Homo sapiens: one gene and its partner. The protein of the gene in region 1 interacts with the protein of each later gene in a pairwise test. Each region holds a gene or a part of one and is shown in the gene's direction. Other genes may lie near its edges. The genes, in order: GUCY2D and RD3.

Region 1 (11,591 bases):
TGAAACAACACACGTTTACTCTCTTACAGTTCTGGAAGTCAGAAGTCCGAATTCAGTTTCACTGGGCCCAAATCCGGTTGTTGGCGGGGCCTTGCTGTCTCTGCAGAATCCATTTCCCATCCATTTCCCGGAGTCACATTTCTTGCGTCCCTTGGCTCCTGTCCTCCAGCAGCGCAGCATCCTGCTTCAGTGTTGCTTTGCTTTGTGTGTCGAATCTCCCTCTTATAAGGACGCTTGTGATTACATTGAGGGCCCACCCAGATAATCCAGGATAATCTTTCCATCTCAAGATCCTTACATTCAAATGGCGAAACATTATTGAATAAAATGAAGTAAATCTATATCTAAGAACATGGAAAACGTCCAAGACATGTAATAAAGGGAAAAATAGAAACTAATACTCGACAACCAGTTAGAAGATATAATAGAAGAAAAGGACCTACAAGAGCAATATAAAAGATAAAATGCTTTTTAATAAACTTAACACAGTTCACAGGTTCTGGGGATTTGGAAATAAAAGAAAAAAAAAGAAAAGAAAAATACAATGATAAAAAAGAAAAGAGTAACAAGAAATACATCAAACTCACTTAAAGAAAAGGTAAAAACACTACAGAAGGGTACAAAAGTAGGCTTCAACAAATAGTAGTCTTGCCCAGAAAGACTCAACATCCTAAAATGTAAATCTTCCATAAATTAATTTATAAGTTTAACACAATAACAAAGAAAGTGCCAATGACTTTTTAAAAATTAGGAAGATGATTAAAAAGACAATATAAAAAATTAATGCATAAGAATTATCAGGAAAATTCTGGAAAGGAGGAGCAATGAGGCAGAGGACGGAGAGTAGCTCTGTAAATTAATTAAAAATATTATAATACTTCAGTAATGAAAGTAGTATAGTAGTGGTTCATATTAGACAGACTGACCAAGGGAACAGAACAGAAAATCCAGAAATACATGCAGATACATTCAGGATTGTTCTTTATGATGATATGAGGAGAAATGAATTATTCAGTGAATGGTAATGGGACAGCTGGGAACCAGGCAGATGAAAATAAAATTGGATCCACACCTTACTCCTCACATCAGGATAAATTCCAAAGGGGTCACAGATTTAAATGTAAACGTGAAACTGTAAGTCCTTGAAGAATGAAGAAAACATTGGAGAATGTGTTTGTAGCCTTTGCTTTTCTGATAGTGATTTAAAATCCAAACGGCATTTAAAAATTTTAAAAGACTGCATTTGAAAATGTACTTGGCAAAAACACACTCACATTATAAGCAAAGAGTAGACACATCAACTGGGATTTTTTTTTCAAATCATATTACAAATGTGTATTCTCCTAACATATAAAGAGATCTAAAAAATGATAAGAAAAAGACCAATAACCCAATAGAAAAGTGAGCAAAAGATATAAACAGACAGTTCTCAAAAAAGATATGCAAAAGGCCTGTAAACATGAAAATATGTTCAGCCTCACTCAGAAGAGAAACACAAATTTAAACTATACCATGATACTTTTTTTTCCCTTGGATGCCATTTTTCTTTTTCAAATATCAAATTGGAGAAATTAAAAACACACTCTGAATCCAGGCTGTGGGCAACAAGACACTCTAAGTCATTGCTGGTACTAGTGTAAATTGGCATAATCCCTAGAGGGGACAATTTGGCAACATCTCTCCAAATTACAGTGCATTTACACAGGCAATTTGCCTGTAGATGTACTTAGATATATGCAAAGTGAGGCTTGTACAAGGTATTCATCGGAGCAGCAATAGCAAAGAGTAACCAGGTTACAGTTCTGCGATTCAATGGAATCTATGCAGCTATGATCAGCTCTCTATGAAACAAGAAACAAGACCTCCAAGATATTGTTGAAATAAAATAGCAAGGTACAGAACAGTGTTATCTTTTATGTAAAAAGGGGACTAGAAGAAAATAGATTCTTATTGCTTGCGTATGCCCAAGGAGCGCCACAAAACGTATGAGAATCTACCTGTGGCTCTCCCTTTGGGGGAAGTGGGCTGACAGGGGACACACGTGGTAGGGAGCATTTTCACTGTATATTCTTTTTTGTTTATTTTATTTTTGAACGATGTAATTGTATTATATTTTCATAAAACAAATATAAAATATTTTAAGGAGGGAAGCAGATTGTAAAATAGTACATAAAATTATCTATTTTCGGCTGGGCGTGGTGGCTCACACCTGTAATCCCAGCACTTTAGGAGGCCGAGGCAGGTGGATCACAAGGTCAAGAGATCGAGACCATCCTGGCCAACATGGTGAAACCCCGTCTCTACTAAAAATACAAAAAAAAATTAGCTGGGCGTGGTGGCGCACACCTGTAGTTCCAGCTACTTGAGAGGCTGAGGCAGGAGAATTGCTTGAACCCGGGAGGCAGAGGTTGCAGTGAGCCAAGATCGCACCACTGCACTCCAGCCTGGTGACACAGTGAGACTGCATGTCAAAAAAAAAAAAAAGTTATCTATTTTCTCATATATGCATTTTTAAAAGCTATTTACAGTGGTTATCTTCAAAAGTCTTTTATTTTTGCTTACACATTTTTGCATACTTTATTACAGATGTGAGCCACTGTGCCCAACCCGTTTTAACATTTAATAGTGAAAAAATGATATATTTCTGTTTCCTCCACACTATTCTTTAACTATTACAAACTGTAGTTTAATGGAATCCTGATTTTTACCCTCTAGTTTGGATTCAGTGTTTCTAACTTGAAGTTTTTTTGTTTTTTTTGTTTTGTTTTGTTTTTTTGACCAGACCCCCAGGACTTGTTTCCTTCTGTGAGATTCAGGCCAAATTGGTTTCAAAAGTTGTTTTGCTTCAAGGAATAGTTTTTCCTTATCTACTGCTGCAGTGATTCCACAAACAGAAACTTCTAATTCCTTCTGTCAACTCCTCCAAATTTCGTGACTTTATGGGGGGCAGGGAAGGGACTAAAAATCTCAGAAGAAAGAGCTTTATACCCTTTGCCTCTAGACAGAGCAAAACCAAGACCTTCCAGAGAGGGAGCGCCACCTGCAGCTGAGGCTATTTATAGTACAGGAGTTGGATTTAAATATAATTCTGTCCTCTGGTAACTCCAGCCAGCTGCTACTTTAAGATTTGGCGCCGCCCTTTATGTAAGAGGGCATGTTTTGTTTCAGTACCTTTCAGATGGAATCGAAATTTAGCAGTAAGCAACAAACAAGCTCTGGTGTGGGCCACTGGAAGTGAGAAGCAGTGTGGTGGCAGGAGGCTGGCTGTGCAACCTTGGCGTGAGGACTAGAATGGATTTAAAATAGTCCACTCCTTGAGTATAAAATGGTACAGGCTCTGCAGAAAACAGTGTGTCAGTTCCTGAAACAATCAAGCATAGAATTATATGATCCAGGCCAGGCACGGTGGCTCACACCTGTAATCTCAGCACTTTGGGAGGCCAAGGTGGGTGGATTGCTTGAGGTCAGGAGTTCGAGACCAGCCTGGCCAACATGGTGAAACCCCGTCTCTACCAAAAATACAAAAATTAGCCTGGTGTGGTGGCGCCTGCCTGTAGTCCCAGCTACTCGGGAGGCTGAGGCAGGAGAATCACTTGGACCTGGAAGACGGAGGCTGCAGTGAGCAGAGGTCAAGCCACTGCCTTCCAGCCTGGGTGACAGAGTGAAACCCTGCCACAAAAAATAAAATTAAATAAAATTAAATATTTATTTGAAAAAAGAATTATATGATCCAGCAATCCCACTTCTAGGTGTATACCCAAAACAACTGAAGGAAGGGACTCAGAGACCAAGAGGTGGAAGCAAGCCAAGTGTCCACAGAAGAATGAATGGGTAAATAAAATGTGGTATATACTGTACATACAATGGAATATTATTTAACCTTAAAAAGGAGTGAGGTGGGGCTTGGTGGCTCACACCTGTAATCCCAGCACTTTCGGAGGCCAAGGCAAGAGGATCACCTGAGGTCAGGGGTTTGAGACCGGCCTGGCCAACATGGTGAAACCCCGTTTCTACTAAAAATACAAAAATTAGCCAGGCATGGTGATGCACGTCTGTAGTCCCAGCTACTCGGGAGGCTGCGGCACGCAAATTGCTTTGAACCCAGGAGGCTGAGGTTGCAGTGAACCGAGATTGCCCCACTGCACTCCAGCCTGGGGTGACAGAGTGAAACTCTGTCTCAAAAAAAAAAAAAAAAAAAAAAAAAAGGAATGAACCTCTGATACGTTACAGCATAGGATAAACCTTGAAAACATCATGCTAAGTGAAATAAACAGACACAAAAGGACAAATACTCTATGATTCTACTTATGTGAGGTAGCTAAAGTAGTCAAATTCATAGAGACAGAAAGAATGATGGGCCGGGGGCAATGGCTCACACCTGTAATCCCAGCACATTGGGAGGCTGAGGTGGGAGGATTACTTGAGCCCAGGAGTTGGAGACCAGCCTAGGCAACATAGTGAGACCCTCATCTCTGCCAAATTTCAAAAAATTAGCCAGGCATAGTGGCACATGCCTGTGATCCCAGCTGCTTGGGAGGCTGAGGTGGGAGGATTGTGTGAGCCCAGGAGGTTGAGGCTATAGTGAGCTGAGATCGTGCCATTGTACTCCAGCCTGGGCAACAGTGCAAGACCCGGTCTCTAAAAAATAAAAAGGAAAAAAAAATAAGAACAGTGGTTTCTGGGGGCTGGAGGGAGGGGAAATGGGGAGCTAGTATTTAATGGGCACAGAGTTTCAATTGGGTAAGATGGAAAAGTTCTGGAGATGGACAGTGGTGATGGTTGCACAACAATATGAATTTACTTAACACCACTGAATTGTACACTTTAAAAATGTTAAAGTGGGGAGACTGGGCGCGGTGGCTCACCCCTGTAATCCCAGCACTTTGGGAGGCTGAGGCAGGCGGATCACGAGGTCAAGAGATCGAGACCATTCTGGCCAACAAGGTGAAACCCCGTCTCCACTAAAAATACAAAAATTAGCTGGGCGTGGTGGCGGGTGCCTGTAATCCCAGCTACTCGGGAGGCTGAGGCAGGAGAATCGCTTGAACCCGGGGGGCGGAGGTTGCAGTGAGCCAAGATCACACCACTGCACTCCATCCTGGGCAGCTGAGTGAGACTCTGTCTCAAAAAAAAAAAAAAAAAAAAAGTTAAAATGGTAAATTTTATGTTAGGTATATTTTATGACAAAAAGATTTTAAAAATCCCCCCTTCATCTTCATCTATATTACCCATCTGTCCATGGACCCTAGAGGAAAATTGGGAGATTGTCAATTTAACCAAATTGGTCTCTGGACCTCATTCTCATCATGTGTGAAATGAAAGAGTTGGCTGGAGTTTCCACAATTTCATGTAGAGATGTTGAGTCAGAAGACAGGAGATGTGGGGAGGTAACTCTTATGGAAGGTAAGAAGCACAGCACTGTAGAAACGAATATTGATGTCTACTGGATTTTGGAAGTCTGCTACAGGTCAGACATCTAAATTTTTGTTGACAAATTTTTTTTAATTTAAATTAGAAAACATTTCAAGCATACAGAAAATCCCTACATATAGCGATTGTTTACCACCAAAAACTAACAGATGTTAATATTTTGCCATATATATATATGATCCGCCAGCCTCTGCCTCCCAAAGTGCTGGGATTACAGGCATGAGCCACCATGCCCAGCCTATGTGTCTTGCTTAATAAATCCATTCCTACCCTGAATTGATAAAGATGTCTTTTCAATCTATGTCTTTTTTTCTCTTAAAAATTTCTGCTCTTTTTAAATTTTTCTATTTTCTTATTTTTTTTCTTTGTTCTTCAGAGCAGATCTACTTTCTTTGAATTCTATAATCTAAAATTTTTAATTAACTTTATTTGGAAATAATTTCAAACTTAAAAAATGTTGCAAAAATAAAAAATATGCAAAGAACACTCACAGGCTGTTTACCCAGATTCACCTATTGTTAGCATTTTACCCTATTTGTTTATCATTTGAAATAGATAATATATAAAACATACCATATATCATATCTAATATATATTTTTTCTGGACTGCTTGAGGGTCAGTTATATACATGATGCTTTACCATTAAATACTTCAGTGTGTATTTCCTATGAACAGGGATAGTCTAACATAACTACACTACCATTATTAACTTTATAACTTTATACTCTTTTGAATCTCCTGTGATATTCCAATTTTGTCAATTGCCAATTTTTTTGTTAATGTTGATGTTCTTTATAGCATTTTTATAACCCCATGCCGCCCTATAACCATTTTTCTTTTCTTTTTTTGTTTTTTGAGATGGAGTCTCACTTTGTTGCTTAGGCTGGAGTGCAGTGGCGCGATATTGGCTCACTGCAAACTCTGCTTCCCAGGTTCAGGTGATTCTCTTGCCTCAGCCTCCTGAGCAGCTGGGATTACAGGTGCACTCCACCACCCGCGGCTAATTTTTGTATTTTTAGTAGAGACGGGACTTCACCATGTTGGCCAGGCTGGTCTCAAACTCCTGACCTCAAGTGATCCGCCTGCCTCGGCCTCCCAAAGTGCTGGGATTATAGGCGTGAGCCACGGTGCCCGGCCTCAAGCCCTATAACCTTATAGCACTTTAAAAAAATCCAATGATACAGAATCCAAACTAAGGGCAGGTGTTGCATATAATTGTCATGTCTTTTTAGGTTTCTTTAATCTGAAACAGTTCCTCAACCTCTATTTGCCTTCTATGACATTGACATTTTTGAAGAATGCAGTCCTCCCCACCTTTTTAAATAGAACGTTTCTCATTTAGTGTTTATCTTATGTTTCCTTGTGATTAGATTTGAAATAATGCTGGAACATTGCCGAGACGTATTGTGCAGCACTGCATAGGTGTAGTATTATGTCCTTCTCAGGGTATCACATCTGGAGGCAAAGAATGTCTCTCTGCCCCTCATGGTTAATTTTGATCACTTGCTTAAAGTATTGCCCCATTTCTCCACTGTACAATGACTGCTTTTTATTTTATTCCCCACTCCCTTCCAACTCATGGCAATCTGGAGGGAGATACTTTCAGACCCTGCAAAAGTTCTGCTCCTCATCCAACATTTCCCCCAGCTTTAGAATCCACTGATGATTCTTACCTGATCCAATCTTTGCCACCAAGTCTGAAAATGATTCATTTAAAAGTTTTTAAGTTTTATTTTTCACATATAGGTCTTTGACCTGGAATAGATTTTGTGTATGGTGTGAGATAGGGATTGAATTCTATTTTCCCCCCAGATGGCTAATCAGCTCCATTTGTTGAAGTTTATTCTTTCCCAGTTGGTAAGAAATGTCCACGTCTTCACACATTTGCTGTGTTTGTTTCAGTACTGTATATTCTATTTCATTGGTCCATTTGTTTATCCTTGTGCCAAAACTATGAAGTCTTTATTGCCATAGCTTTATAATATATATTTATATAAATATATAATTGCTGTCACTACATAATGTGGATTTATATAAATATATAATATATAATTGCTATAGCTTTATAGTATATATTTATATAATTGCTGTTTTATATATCATATAATTATATAAATATATAATTGCTATGTTTTATATATTATATATTTATGTAGATATATAATTGCTATGTTTTATATATTATATATTTACATAAATACATAATTGCTATTGCTTTATAATAAATTTGTATATCTTATAGGGCATCTTCCATTATACTCTTCTCTAAAATTGTTAGCTATTCTTGCCATCCGGGCAATTATATTCATTTTCACAACAACCCTCAGATTAAGCAATTGCCCAAGGTCCAAAAATCAGCAAGAGGGACTTGGAACCCAGGTCTGTCGGAGGCCAAAGCTCTTTTCATTACTTCCTGAGGGTGGTTTTCTAGGCATGGAGAAGCAGAGGTCAGGGAATCAAGTGTGGCGAGAGAGAGAAGAGAAGTGAAAGAAGAAAGGCAGGTGTCAGCTTGGTGTGGGTTTGGTCTCTGGGATATAGACTTTGCCAGCCAAAGGATGGAGCTTGAACTTAGCTGGCAGAACTGGAAACAGAAGATTGTAAGGAAAGGGACTGGGATCAGTGTTTCTTCTCCAGGACGGATTACCCACAGCTGTCCACGGGCAGGCACTTGTTACTTTCTGGCTGAGCAGGGCAGTGTGGCCGACGGCTGAAAGGGGAAGCTGCGGCTGCTTTTGTGCAGGGGTGGTGGTGATGAGGGTGATGTGGGGGGCTGGAAGGCATGGAGGGGAAAGGATCTGGCTGACTACCTGGAAGCCAGGACAGATCCCACCCCAGAAAGGCGCAGTAGGGGCTCTCATCCTCCACTAGCCCGCCCCTCCCTACCTAATTAAGGACCCTAATCAGCTTGGGGAGATTAAGGGCTCTGGCCGGCTGTACCCACGCCCCCGCCCTGGCCTGGGCTGGCAAGGAAGACCTGTGGGCGGGCGTCAAAAGGGGGACCGGCCCTGTGACCCCTCACCGGGGGCCGTGGGCCCGAGCCCCCGGACTTCCCTGTAAATGTCAGAGGCCCCTCCGCTGGGATAGGGTCGGTCTGAGGGCGCAGGCGAGTCCCTGCTGACCCCTGACGCCTCCGACGGGGGGAGGGGCAGGCCGGGTGGGAGCGGGAAGCCGGGGCGGCAGAAGGGGGCTTCGGGGCGGTGTCCTTGGCCCCAGTTAGTCTTCCCAGCCTCCGGAGGGGGCGGTAGCAGCAGAATCATCCCATGGGTTACTCGGGCTTGGAGAAACTCGGGGTTACGGGGAGAACCCTAGGGGAGGCCGGGGTCTCAGTCGCTCAGCCTGCTCCGTCTGTGTTCGCAGAAGCCGGCAATGACCGCCTGCGCCCGCCGAGCGGGTGGGCTTCCGGACCCCGGGCTCTGCGGTCCCGCGTGGTGGGCTCCGTCCCTGCCCCGCCTCCCCCGGGCCCTGCCCCGGCTCCCGCTCCTGCTGCTCCTGCTTCTGCTGCAGCCCCCCGCCCTCTCCGCCGTGTTCACGGTGGGGGTCCTGGGCCCCTGGGCTTGCGACCCCATCTTCTCTCGGGCTCGCCCGGACCTGGCCGCCCGCCTGGCCGCCGCCCGCCTGAACCGCGACCCCGGCCTGGCAGGCGGTCCCCGCTTCGAGGTAGCGCTGCTGCCCGAGCCTTGCCGGACGCCGGGCTCGCTGGGGGCCGTGTCCTCCGCGCTGGCCCGCGTGTCGGGCCTCGTGGGTCCGGTGAACCCTGCGGCCTGCCGGCCAGCCGAGCTGCTCGCCGAAGAAGCCGGGATCGCGCTGGTGCCCTGGGGCTGCCCCTGGACGCAGGCGGAGGGCACCACGGCCCCTGCCGTGACCCCCGCCGCGGATGCCCTCTACGCCCTGCTTCGCGCATTCGGCTGGGCGCGCGTGGCCCTGGTCACCGCCCCCCAGGACCTGTGGGTGGAGGCGGGACGCTCACTGTCCACGGCACTCAGGGCCCGGGGCCTGCCTGTCGCCTCCGTGACTTCCATGGAGCCCTTGGACCTGTCTGGAGCCCGGGAGGCCCTGAGGAAGGTTCGGGACGGGCCCAGGGTCACAGGTAGGCTCCCTTGCAGGGTGCGAGGAGGTCGGCTGGTCCTGCCGGCAGCCGGACGGCGCCGCGAGCCAAGCCTCTGTCCGCAGCAGTGATCATGGTGATGCACTCGGTGCTGCTGGGTGGCGAGGAGCAGCGCTACCTCCTGGAGGCCGCAGAGGAGCTGGGCCTGACCGATGGCTCCCTGGTCTTCCTGCCCTTCGACACGATCCACTACGCCTTGTCCCCAGGCCCGGAGGCCTTGGCCGCACTCGCCAACAGCTCCCAGCTTCGCAGGGCCCACGATGCCGTGCTCACCCTCACGCGCCACTGTCCCTCTGAAGGCAGCGTGCTGGACAGCCTGCGCAGGGCTCAAGAGCGCCGCGAGCTGCCCTCTGACCTCAATCTGCAGCAGGTAGACGGTCCCGGGAGGAGGGAAGAAGGCAAGGGAGAGGGGAGAGGACAGCCAAAGCAGGGAGAGGAGGATGCAGCCAATGGAGAAAGAACCACTGGCAGCTCTAGCTGTTTGGAGTTTCCTGGGTAATGTAGAGGCTCTGGCCCCACTTGGGGTCTCTTAGTGTACGAGGATTGCCTCTAGAGAGTAGGCAATTCGACCTCTCAAGTCCAACATCAAGCAGTAAACTCTAATGAACTGTAAACTGCAAAACCTTTTGCAATTGGCTTCAAAGTAAACCCGTTTCCACCACCACATACTCCCAGCTGTCTAAAATAAATACTTGGTGTTCTTGAAAGCAGGAAGGAGGGAGGATGCCAATCCAACCTTCATCCCTAGTTCAGAGGTATTTCCTCTGGGGCCTCATCTGGTGGTCTTAGCTTTTCAAGGGCCTAGACACCTTGCAAGAAGCAGAAAGTTCCCTGGGTGGATTCAGGGGCAATCCTAACCAGATCCATAGTGTATTTCCAACATCCAGCTAATACCTAGGGATCCCCAAGTCCCCAGAATCCCAGTTCAGATCATCTAACTTTACTCCCGCCACAAAGGGGGACTAGAAACCACTATGAGAAGGGAATTTAGATGTCAACGGGCAGTGAATTAACCACCACAAAGGTCCAACTCACAGGCGGCTGCATGAGAGAAGGGTCGTAGGGGTTGCAATTTCCCATCGATGCCCCTAGATTCTTCCAAGAGGATTGGAGGTGTCCAATGGAGGGGGGAGGGGTGCAGTGATGGGAATAGTCAGAAGAGAATACAAGATAGGAATCATAATGAGATGGGATGGAGGGAGGGTCGGTCAGTGGAGAGAGGGAGGTTGAGAAAGTAGAGAGAGAAAAGCCCTTCAGCTCTCAGTAAGTACCACAGCAGTCCTCTCCACTGCCCAAACTGCGCAAGCCTCTGAGCGTGTGAGTCACCCTTGATTCCTTGAATTCTTCGCCCCCACTTCCAGGCATCAAGCCCTGTTACTGTTACTTCCTAAAGATCATTCGAATTCATCCGCTTTCTCCATCTTTACTGTCACTGCCCTGATTCAGGCCACAGCACCCCCAGCCCAAATCCCAAAACATAATCTCTCAGATGGTCTCTGCTTCAACACTCACCTGCCCAACACCTTTCTCCAGATCAAGCTTCAGAAATCTGACAGATCTCACCCTGTCATGCCCCTGTTCAAAGCCTCACAGTGGCTTCTGTTGCCCTGGATAGATGCAGGCCTCTCCACATGGCTTACCAGGTCACCTGTCTTTCTCTCTCTTCCACCTCCCATGAACTTCAGCCAGACCAAGCTACTCTGGGTTCTTGGAATGTGTCCTTCTCTTTTGCCTCTGAGCTTCTGAGTGTGCTGTTTCCTCTCTCTTGTCCCTGCCTCCCCTGGATAATTCTGACTCATCCCCTGAAGGATGGTCACTTCTAACAGCTCCTTCTCTGTCCACAGCCTAGGGTGGGGACACCCATTCCTGTCTCTGCAGCTCCCTCAGTTTCCCCTACTTTTACTCATTGCACTGCCTGAACACCCCTGTCTCTTTGGCAAGAAGAAAGGTTCCTTGAGACGGGGTCTGTCTTGTACACTGATACATCTTTAGTGCTCTGCACAGTGCCTGGCTCTCTGAGAGATGGCAACTGGGAATAATAGAGAAGCCTGATAA
Region 2 (11,557 bases), on another chromosome or scaffold:
CATGTCCTCCTCACCTCCCCTGGAATGTGCATCCTTGGACTTCTGGGTGACCTCGGCACCCCACAGTCCATTCCTGCCTTCCTTACATCTGTTGTCTGTGGTCCTTGAGCCTGTGACATTACGTCTCTTGGGGCTCTTTCAGGTTCAGGAGAGTGGGGAGCAAGTCCACGGCATTTGTTTAACACAGAGACCAAGCCCAGTCACTCTGGCTAATGCGTTCTCTGTGGGTACAGCAAACACGAACTTAGCTTTTACCGTGTGCTGGGGCTTGATCTCCTTGACCTTGGGGAGCTCTTCTTCTGCAGGGATGCTGATTAAATGCTCAGGAAATGGTGTGAAGCACAGCCAATTCTTGTTATTCACAGTAGTTATTATCTATAAAGTTGTGAATTAGCAAACACTGAACCATTGCTCCTAGGGGAAATACAGGGTGAAGTTCAGTCCTCGTCCTGGATGAGGTTCCTGAAGCCTCTGGTCATGACATTTTTGTCAGCTGACCAATACATAACCTTGTTTTATGTGCATTTCTATTGAAAGACACCTTATTTACTCTATATTGTTGATTCATTAGCACTGAACTCACCGCCAGCAGTGCTAAGTCAGGCCTGAAGGAAGCTGATCTAACTCATGTAGTAAAGCGTGTCACTGCCTCCTTGCACTTAGGAACACTAGAAGGCCCTTCAGCACTACTTTTGGGGCCATTTTCGATATCAAAATCACAAATAAAAAGCACAAAGTATGAAAAGTGGGCACTAAATAGACTGTGAAAAGGACACTTAAGATCATGAGAGCTGAAACAAGAAGGCAGAGCGTGCCTTGTTCAAGCTCAGCAGGGAACAAGTCCATCAGGTCACTAACATTTTTCTACATGTCTAGAATGACCACAAAAGTATTAGGTTGGCGCAAAAGTAATTACTTTTAATGGGAAAAACCGCAATTACTCTTACAGCAATCTAATACTATGAGTAGGCCAGGTGCAGTGGCTCACACCTGTAATCTCAGCACTTTGGGAGGCTGAGGCAGGGGATCACTTGAGCTCAGGAGTTCGAGACCAGCGTGGCCAACACAGTGAAACCCTGTCTCCACTAAAAAACACAAAAATTAGGCCGGGCATGGTGGCACACGCCTGTAATTCCAGCACTTTGGAAGGCCTAGGCGGGCGGATCACCAGGTCAGGAGATTGATACCATCCTGGCTAACACGGTGAAATCCTGTCTCTACTAAAAAACACAAAAATTAGTCTGGGTGTGGTGGCTCACGCCTGTAATCCCAGCACTTTGGAAGGCCAAGGCAGGCGGATCACAAGGTCAGGAGATTGATACCATCCTGGCTAATATGGTGAAACCCCATCTCTACTAAAAAAATACAAAAAAATTAGCTGGGTGTAGTGGCGGGTGCCTGTAGTCCCAGCTACTTGGGAGGCTGAGGCAGGAGAATGGCATGAACCTGGGAAGTGGAGCTTGCAGTGAGCCGAGATCTCGCCACTGCACTCCAGCCTGGGCGACAGAGCGAGACTTCATCTCAAAAAAAAAAAAAAAAAAAAAAGTAGCCGGGTGTGGTGGCACAAGCCTGTAATTCCAGCTACTTGGGAGGCTGAGGTGGGAGAATCGCTTGAACCTGGGAGGCAGAGGTTGCAGTGAGCTGAGAGCACAGCACTGCACTCCATCCAGCCTGGGCAACAGAACAAGACTCTGCATCAAAAAAAAAAAAAGTTCTATGAGTATTGACTTTTGGATTACAAATAAATTTTAGTGAGTAGGCAAATTTGCCAGTACTTTGGTAGGTAATGAGGATCAACTGTGTGTACAGAAGGAAGAATGAGGCTTCAGGCCGGGCACAGTGGCTCACACCTGTAATCCCAGCACTTTGGGACGCCAAGGTGGGTGGATCACCTGAGGTCAGGAGTTCGAGACCAGTTTGGCCAACATGGTGAAACCTTGGCTCTACTAAAAATACAAAAATTAGCTGGGTGTGGTGGCACACGCCTGTAATCCCAGCTACTTGGGAGGCTGAGGCAGGAGAATTGCTTGAACCCAGGAGGCAGAGGTTGCAGTGAGCCAAGATCGTGTCATTGCACTCCAGCCTGGGCAACAAGAGCAAAACTCCATCTCAAAAGAAAAAAAAAAAAAAAAAAAGAATGAGGCTTCAGAGTGGAGAGGAGGGAGCAGCAGACAGAGGATAATTCACAAAGCGGTTACCATGAAGCTAAACTTTGAGGGGTAAGTTAACTTCCCCAGGTAGGAGGGGACTCTGGGTAGAGTGGGCACCATGCACAGGGGCATGAGACAACAGGGGATGAAGTAATGTCTTTAAGGTGATGGTGAAAAAACCAGCGGCGAACATGTCAGGAAGAGCCCTGATGTCCAGGAACCTAGGAAAGGGCAGCACTTCCACACCCACCCCTTTTCACAGGGTTTTTTGTGAGCTGGGTGGTGCCAACTGCTATTACAGAGAAACCCCAACTCAGTGCTTTGACCCAACAAGCATATGATTTTTTGCACACATTAGAGTTCAACATGAATGATGGGTGAGCAGCTTTTCATGAAGTGATTGAGGGACCTAAACGCCTTCAAAACTGTGTCTCCCCCACCCCGAGGGCCTCAGAGTCCTGGCTGACGATCAGCAAAGGGGAAAGGTGGAAGGTGGACAGTTGCACAGGGGTGTCTACCTGCCACACCTTGAAGTGACTCATGTCCCTTCCATCTACACCCTATCATCACACGGCCCCACCTAGATGGGAGGAGGGATGGGGAATGAAGTCCCCAGCTGGACAGCTGCTTCCTAGGAACATGTCTACTACATGTTCATGTACTCTGGAGGAGAAATGTGACTCTTGGTGGACAGCTAGCTGTTTCTGCCACAGGCCCTCACATTAGTCCATCAGACTACAGGGCAGAACTGAAAAGCTGTAGCCGGGCGCAGCGGCTCACCCCTGTAATCCCAGCACTTTGGGAAGCTGAGGCGGGTGGATCACCTGAGGTCAGGAGTTCGAGACCAGCCTCAACATGGAGAAACCCCATCTCTACTAAAAATACAAAATTAGCCAGGCGTAGTGGTACATGCCTATACTCCCAGCTACTCGGGAGGCTGAGGCAGGAGAATTGCTTGAACCTGGGAAGTGGAGATTGTGGTGAGCCAAGATCGCACCATTGCACTCCAGCCTGGGCAACAAGAGCAAAACTCTGTCTCAAAAAAAAAAAAAAGAAGAAGAAGAAGCTGTGGTCAGTGAAGTCTATGGAAATGGAGTGTCAAGGTGCAGTCTAGACAGAGTATATAGCCAATAAATGCTTGGTGAATGAATGAATGAATGAGAAGTGCTTTATGCCTCATTCCCAGCTAGCTGGCAGGGAAGGGAGCATTCTCATTTTTCCTGCCGTCAGACACATTGCTTCCTGTACCTGATGTCTGAGTCCATTCAGGCTTCTATTACAGAATACCATAAACTGGTGACTTATAAATGACAGAAATTTATTTCTCACAGCTCTGGAGGCTGGGAAGTCCAAGATCAAGGTGCCAGTAGATTCAGTGTCTGCTGAAAGCCCACTTCCTAGTTGATGGAGGCATCTTCTCACAGTGTCCTCACGTGGTAGAAGGGCCAAAAAGCTCCCTGAGACCATTTCACAAGGGCAGTAATCTCATTCCTGAGGGCTCCCCTCTTACGACCTAATCACATCCGAAAGGTCCCACCTCCTAACCATCACCTTGGGAGATTCAAGATTGAATTTTGGGGAGGACACAACATTCAGTCCGTAGCACCTGGAGAGGAAATGTGACCACAGGAATAGAAAGAGGGATGCCCAGAGAGAAGAGGTCTAAGTAACTGCAAATCTGGTCTGTACCTATGAATATTCTGTCCATTTAATTCAACTTCTTTGGGATTAGGGCTACACAGACCTTCTGCAGGATTTGGAAAACCCAACGCATGACTGAGTGGTTAGAAATGGTTTGAAATAGCCTGGAAAGACTCCAGGGAGGAGAGAACGGAGCGCGCGCGTGCACACACACACACACACACACACACACACACGCAGAGCCGGGGCTTATCTCTAATCTCCATGCGGATTTTAATCCAGCCTTGCATGTAATCGCCTCATAACTCCACATTTCCAATTTATTAATCAAATGCCATCTATGAGGCAATGTTGCGGGCCCCACCGGTGTTTCTGCATTTGATGGTTGCTGAATATCTATGCTTCAGCAACTTCCATCCACGCCAAACAAGAGAAAAACAACCGCCACCTTTTCTCCCCAGAGCAAATTCACACTCAGCAAGGATAATCACAAATCCTCCACAGGTGAACAAATCAGAATAAATGAGGAGTCAACACACCCACCAAGGCCTGTGAGTTACGGTATCAAGGCAGCTGTCAGGGAGGGTCGTGGGTTAGGGAGTGCCTCCCTCTTCTAATCACAGGCACCATTTGAAAAATGCAGGAGAGGGGCCAGCTGCGTCTGCCAGGGAGACTGCTATAAGTCGTCTGTGTGCTTGTTCCCTGGCATCCCAGGGTCAGGAGTCCTGAAGCTCATCTGGCAGCTGCTGCGACAAAATCTTTCTGATGGCTCAAGACATTGGCCTCTATGATCTCATTTACATTCATTGTGTGTGCATTAGAAGGGGAGATATTAATACAAAAGCATGGCTATAGAAAAGGGATGAATTGTTTTTATTCAAACACAGAATGGTCAGTAGCAGACCCAAGGTTGTACTACTTGGAGATAAAAGTCTTTAACTCTGGGCCCTAATGCTGTCCCTGCTCCCCACCTGCCTGCCAGACTTCCACCTCCTCCTCATCTGATCCAGCAATCCAGCACACACAGGCTTGGCTGGGATGTGTGCAGAGAGGAGAGCCAGGCTCAGCCAGCTCCTAGCTTGGTGCCCCTGTAGAATGGTGCTTTAGAAATACGTGCTGCACAGATGAGCATGTGACTTAGTCCATGCCCTCCTCTCCTCATTGCCTCCAGCAACTTTCCTAAAGGGAAGGTAAAGTCTTGTCATCCCCCTGCTCCCTTCCCTACAGTGTGGAAATGCCTGGGAATTTCTGCCCTTGGACCTCCAAGCCACGCCCCTTGGGAAAGTGCCAGGATAGTGGTGGGGTGCTCAGAGGTGGGGACTCCCAGTTACCTGCTTTGGGTGACTCTGGCCTTAGCTGGCCCTGAGGTGGAGGCCGCCTGGGAACTGTGGGTCAGAGGAAGTCAGCTTCAGCTCCCTCAAATGTGGGGATCTTCCATCCCCAAGTGACCCACTCAATCTTTGGGGCTGTCGTGCTGTGAACTGGTCAAGAGAAGTATATGATCCAACTCCTGACTCAAGAATCTTGCCTGCTTGATGGATGAAGAGGGAAGGCGGATGGAACCAGCTGAGTGGAACCAGCCACAGAGCAAGCACGAAGTGACAAATCACCCAGGGACGAAATCATGCAGGCAGGCAGGTGGGCAACCTGAGTCCATTTCATCAGCCATTGTTTAATTTATTCTTGGTTGTACTTTCTGCTTTATTTCCAACACAATCAAAACCAGATGTGTGCAAAAGTCACGCTATCACCCAGCACAGGATTACCTAAGATCTATTATAATGCAGCTTCATGCCCATTACAGTATTCCCATGCCCCTCACAGGGCAGTGTGCATCTGTTTTAGTGCTACCTAATGTCTGTTAGGTGCAAGCTGGCCCACACATGGCTTCTAGGCAGAACAGTCTACAAGTGACAGCGTGACCAGAGAGCAGAGACAGGAAGGAGGCCCAGACATGAGTGTGGGATGCTGCAGAACAGCAACAGGATGCTTCTGCTATCCCCAAATGTTATCTCAAATACCTCAACGTCAATGCTTTCTGTTCCATGTTCCTCTTCTCCCTGGACAGCCCCTCCTTCTGAAAGTCAGAACTGTCTGCTCTTGAGCTTGCCTTGAGGGAAGGAAATAATTTAGATAAGCAGAGAGGAAGACAGGCAAGGGATGTGGTGGGGCAAAGGCGGAGATGTATCTTCACAGGTCCCTGTCCTCAGCACCCAGAATCACCCCTTCCCTGTAGGAGGGAGCTGATAGAAAGAGGGGATCTCCATCCAGGAGCCACCCACCAGGCAGCTGGAAACATTTGCCAACAGCAGGTACACCTAGGGCTCAGCAGAGGGTTGGGTGAGAATGGTCTTGCCCAGTTTGTGCCACACTGAGCACCGGCTGGAGGAGGAAGCGGACAGAATGCCATCTGGACACAAGTGCTCCCTCACTGCCTGGGCCTGGGTCGCCTCAGGCTTTTGTGTCAGATCAGCCACTCCCTCTACAGATAATGCTGCTCCAGGCAAAGAGGCTTAGGTGGGTCTCCAGGGCAACCGCAGCTCAGGAGCTGGCCCGCCTCCATGGTTCATCAGGGAAGCTGTGGCTCCAGCCTCGCGGGATACATACACGCATACACACACACACACACACACACACACACACACACACACACACACCTACACACCCCACAAACAATAGTCCAGGCTGGATCTCTCCTCCTGTCTCTTCTCTTGGTAAAACTTCTCAGAGAACCAAAGAGAGGCAAAATTTGAGGCCAGCCGGCAGCAGCAGAGAAGCTGAGGGAGACTTGAGGATGTAGACTGCCCTGCCCTGCTGTGGCTGCTCAACTTTCTTTTTTTTTCCTGAAAATATCCAGACACTCTCTTCTCCCAGACTGGGAAGCAGAACGCAGGCCCCCTGCTGTGACGCTGCACCTGAGCAGAGGCTGACCTCAGAGGTAAGATGGAGGTCTCCCCAGGAGACAGTGTCTTCCCCACCCGCACCCTGGCACAGCTGCACCTTTGGAAGTTAGGGCTGAGGCTTGAAGCTGGGTGGGGTGGCCTCAAGGGGTGTGGCAGGCTGGGGAGCCTAGAAAGCCGCCCACCTCCGGGACCCAGATGGCCACAGGAAGGCCCCTTTAGTCCTCATCAGTTCCACAGGAGTTGGAACCGATGAGGGTCCTGCAGCTTCCTCGGGGCTATAGCCTGCTCCTTGTTTTGTAAACCTGTGGGAAGCCATTGTTTTTGCCTGTTCTGGAACTGCAAGCCTCTCGGGGAGGACCCAGCTCCAGCAGGTTCCTTTCTGCCTTTATAGAGTGGACACAGGCAGGGGGAAGGAAAGCGAAACCCAAATCAGAGACTCTTGCATGGGTTTGCGAACTGTGATTCGAGCATCTACTAAGTCCAAGGCACAGAGTCAGGCTCTGGGGATGCAGCAGCACCCAGGGCACGAGGGTGATGGATGTGCCTCAGTCCCCTCGAACATGGAGCAGTCTGTGCATCCCTGATAACATGCCCAGGAGAGTGGGCCCAGGCAGATGGGTGCAGGGTGGGGCGCCAGGGAGATCGGGCCTAGAAGGAAAGTCCAGCTGCGACCAAGGGATGAGGGTCAGTCCCCTCCCACTGTGGTCAGTCAGACCTGTGTACACGCCCTCTCCTGGCTGCACCTCTGCCTCAGAATGGGAAGGACTGGCTGCCATTCACTCATTCATTCAGGAACCGCTTATCAAGTGCTACCATGTGCAGCAGATTCAACCCACATTCCTCTCGCCCTTGCAGAATTCATAGCTAGGTGGGGAAGAGATAAATACAACCCAAAGCGTGAGAAACGTGTTTGCTAGATGCCATGGTGATGGGCCCTTGTGTCAGGCCCTGGTGGCTGGGATCAGTGCTCCATGGGTGGGGGGAAGTGAGGGGCCGGCTGCAGGGAGGAGTTGTCTCTTGAGGGGTTCCCGACAAATGAGCAGATGTCTGTCAGGTGGGCAGAGGATCCACAGGTCAGGCCCGCTCATATCTGGCTTGGTGGATTATAGGTTGTTTTTCTGTGATGCCAAAGAGAAATAAGGTCAATTTGCAATCTGTAAAGTTGGACTTGGGCCTTATCAAACACAGAGCTGGGAGGCAGATTAGCCAGAGAAGCACCTACTCTCTGCCCCCACTGAGAAGTCTCTGCCCAGACTGAGCGTCTGGCGTCAGCAGAGCCAGCCTGCCCCTGCAGTGAAGCTGCCAGTGCTCTGGGACAGCCTGACTCAGGTGCTGCTCTATGCCTGGGTCCGGCGGGTCACACAGGGCAGCCCCTCACCCTGGCCTGCAGATGCCTAGCTCAGCTTCAGAGGTGGAGGACCCGGGCCGGGTTCCCTGGCCATGGCTCCCTTTGCACTGAGAAATTGGCCTTCCTGGGCAAGGTCTGCACGCCCTCACTGTTTGGCTGGGGCCGGCGCAGGGCCTCAGTTCTCACTAGAGGTGAGGGCACTCTCATCCCTCCTGCAGGGGGTCAGAGCCCTGCTTCCAGCTCCAAGGTCACACTCCCCATTGTTCCCACCATTGAGACATCCCTGGTCCCCCTCTGAGTGCCAAGTGGAACCAGAGACTCCTCTTGCCCTTGAGGCACAACGCGAGAGTTTTTCCAGCACAGCTAACGAGCCACAGCTGGTAGTGGCGCCTCCCAGGAGCCACAGAAAAGACATTATCCTCAGGGATGTTCAAAAATAGGCTGAAAGGAAGGCTCTGAGAGTGTGGGGGTGGAAGGGGTAATGAAGGAGAAAGGAAAGAGGAAAGAGAAGATCAGAGAATGGAAGATAACGGGCGTGGGTGAGTGACACCAAAAGGCAGAGACAGAACGTGCGAGGGCTTCCCCATCATCCACTCTGCTCTGTAAACCTGAGGCCTCACCACCTGGGCCTTCTCTTGAAACAGGGAGGCTCAGCTCTCCCAACACGGTGACCAGAAGCCAGGGCTGGGGAAGGCCAGGAACAAAGTTGGGGTCAAGCTTGCACCAAGCCAGGGGATCCTTTATTTTTGTGCCCCCTTTGGGAGTCTGTGAAGCCTGTGGACACGTTCCTAGAAAAATGCTTCTAAATGCATAAAAGTAAATTCACTGGGGTACAAAGGAAACAAGCTCTATTGAAATGCAGCTATCAAAAAAAAAAAAAAGAAAGAAAAAATGATTTATGATATAATAATATGTGTGCTTCCCTATCAACATGTGAAATAATAAAACCTAGTAGCAAGTCTAATAAATGCCACAATTTCATAGTAGTGATGAGCATACCAGATAATTCAAGAATAACAACTTTAAAGCATTTTGTGAAAAATCTGTGGTTTCTGCTGGAGATAAAGCCATGGGGCTACTGATATTACTGTGGTCTATGACCCTCATTCATAACTAAAGAAATACCACATTTCAGTTAAAGGTTAGTGGAAATAAAGATGACTTTTTTCCCCACCCAAGTTCATAAATCCCTGAATTTTCCCTAGGACCCAAGGGTAAGAATCTGTACTAAGCGACAATGGTAGCCACTGATCTAGGTGAATCAGCTTATTGTTAGTTTATAAAAATAAAACATTTACAAAGACATAATCTCATTTGATTTTCACAGTAACTTGAAATAGGTACCTTTATTATTCCCTTATAGATTGGGGAAACTGAGGCTTGGGGCCATGAAGGTGACTTGGACAAAGGCAGCATACACGGGAGGGGAAGGGCGTAGGAACTGAATTCAGGTTTTATCTGCTGAAGGCTGCACTGTCTCCCCAAGCCCAGCCTGCTCCACCTGAGCTGGTGATCAAGTAGAGGCGGAGTGGGGGTGCAGCCAGGCCACCCAGCATGCATCTGAGGTCAAAAGCAGTGGAGGTGGTGAGTGGGGGTGAGAGTGGGGATGGTACTGGACCCCAGGCCCCAGACTCCACGGAGGGAATATGGGGAGAGGGAACGGAAGGCATGTATGTGTCAATGGACAGCAGCAACTCTGTCCCCACCCCGGCTCCCAGACAAAAGAGGGAAACGCAGCCCAAAGATTCTTACTAAGGACCCCAAGATGGATAGGGGTCTTAACAAGCAGGGCCCAGCCCATGTTCCTAGCTGGCTTTCATTTCTTTTCTTCTTGTTTTGTGTCATCATTGCATTTGGTCATCTGTCTCCTCTCTATAGAGCCTTCAAGACCTCTTTCCAGGTGGGTTTTTTTTTTTTTTTTTGACAGAGTCTTGTTCTGTCGCCTAGGCTGGAGTGCAGTGGCACCATCTTGGCTCACTGCAGCCTCCACCTCCCGGGTTCAAGCAATTCTCATGCCTCAGCCTCCTGAGTAGCTGGGATTACAGGCATCTGCAACCACACCTGGCTAATTTTTGTATTTTTAGTAGAGATGGGGTTTCACCATATTGGCCAGGCTGGTCTCAAATTCCTGGCCTCAAGTGATCTGCCTGCCTTGGCCTCCCAAAGTGCTGGGATTATAGTCGTGAGCCACCGCTCCCGGCCTCCAGGTGAACTTTTTAGCCACCTGATTGTGTCTCATAAGAATTACAACCCCTGATCACTGCACAGGATTTGTATAGTTTACTGAATGTTTTCACATATTGTCTCCTGCCCGAGTCTCAGAGAAGCCCTGTGGAGTGGGCTGAGCTGGTGTCTGAACACCATTTTATAAATGCAGAAACCAAGGCCTCGCTGGTTAATGAGCAGTAGCGGTTATGCAGAGAACAGGGGCAGGCACTTCCTGGGCACACCCTGCACTGCTTACACAGCCGAGGCCCAGGAGTCCCTTTCCACTCAGGAGAGCTGTGCCTTTGGTGGCATCGCAATTGCTTGTCTGCTTGTTTTCCCCCCTCTCTTGAGTGTACACTCCTTGAGGGAGTCCCAGCACCTAGCACAGCGACAGGCAGGTCACACACTCCTCCTGTGTCTGCTGAGCGAGTGAGTGGATGAGAACTCAGCCCTGCGCCTCAGTCTCCAGGCCCTAGGCCCTCCCCGCACACGCCACTGTGCAAGGCCTCGATGCCCAGGCTCGTGGGTGAAGAAAGACACAGCAGCAGAAATGAGCAGAATAGGGACTGCAGGCAGGGGTCCCGAGGAACAACGCAGGCCATCAGGTAGAGTGAATCAGGAAGGCTTCCTGCACAAGTGAGTTTTGAGGTAGAGCTTTCCCAACTTTTAAACTTGAATATGCATAAACATGCAGAAAAGTGTGATAAATATCTATCAATATCCCCCAGATACAACAATTGCTAATATTTTGCCATATTTGCTCTTGTAGGGGCCAAGGGCTTGGCCCTATGAAGGTTCACTTAAAAATCAACTCAAGAAAGGCTGATTAATTAGAGAAAAGGCGTACACATTTATCACAAACGCGTACATGGGGAGAATCACAGAGGAACTGCTCACCCCACACTGTGGTTCGGAAGCTTATATATCATCCTGGCAAAGCAGGTTATGGGAGGGGGAGAACAGCAGTTCTGGTGAGAGGATTACTAGGGAGAATGAACGGGGCAGGGATCAGAAATGAACTTGTACATTATCCTGGGAGAGGGTCTGTTCAGGTGGGGGCTCATTCTCGGTCTTAAGAAAGGGGAAGAAAAAAACCATTGTTCCCTTTGGTGGATCTGGATCTTAGGCAGACAAAGGCTTTGGAAGAGACGGTGGCCGTGGGGAGGGCCAGAGAGACCACGAGGCTTCTTCAGCTCAGCATGTCCAAATGCCATATCTTAGGATATTGGTTTCTGAGCCCCAACATCCTGTTTATGGGGTGTGTGTATACATATTTATGTAATGTTTTCTGAACTATTTGAATGTAA

Evidence for each region.
Region 2: the proteins of GUCY2D (region 1) and RD3 interact in binary tests that used the Homo sapiens proteins (3 or more experiments, as listed by UniProt).

What each region holds. Positions count from the first base shown.
Region 1 is NC_000017.11:7,994,251-8,005,841, forward strand, and holds the start of GUCY2D (retinal guanylyl cyclase 1 precursor), read left to right. Parts: upstream 1-8,364; 5' UTR 8,365-8,484; intron 8,485-8,788; 5' UTR 8,789-8,797; coding exon 8,798-9,518; intron 9,519-9,601; coding exon 9,602-9,906; intron 9,907-11,591. UniProt on the Homo sapiens protein: Catalyzes the synthesis of cyclic GMP (cGMP) in rods and cones of photoreceptors. Plays an essential role in phototransduction, by mediating cGMP replenishment.
Region 2 is NC_000001.11:211,486,940-211,498,496, reverse strand, and holds the start of RD3 (protein RD3), read left to right. Parts: upstream 1-6,334; 5' UTR 6,335-6,729; intron 6,730-11,557.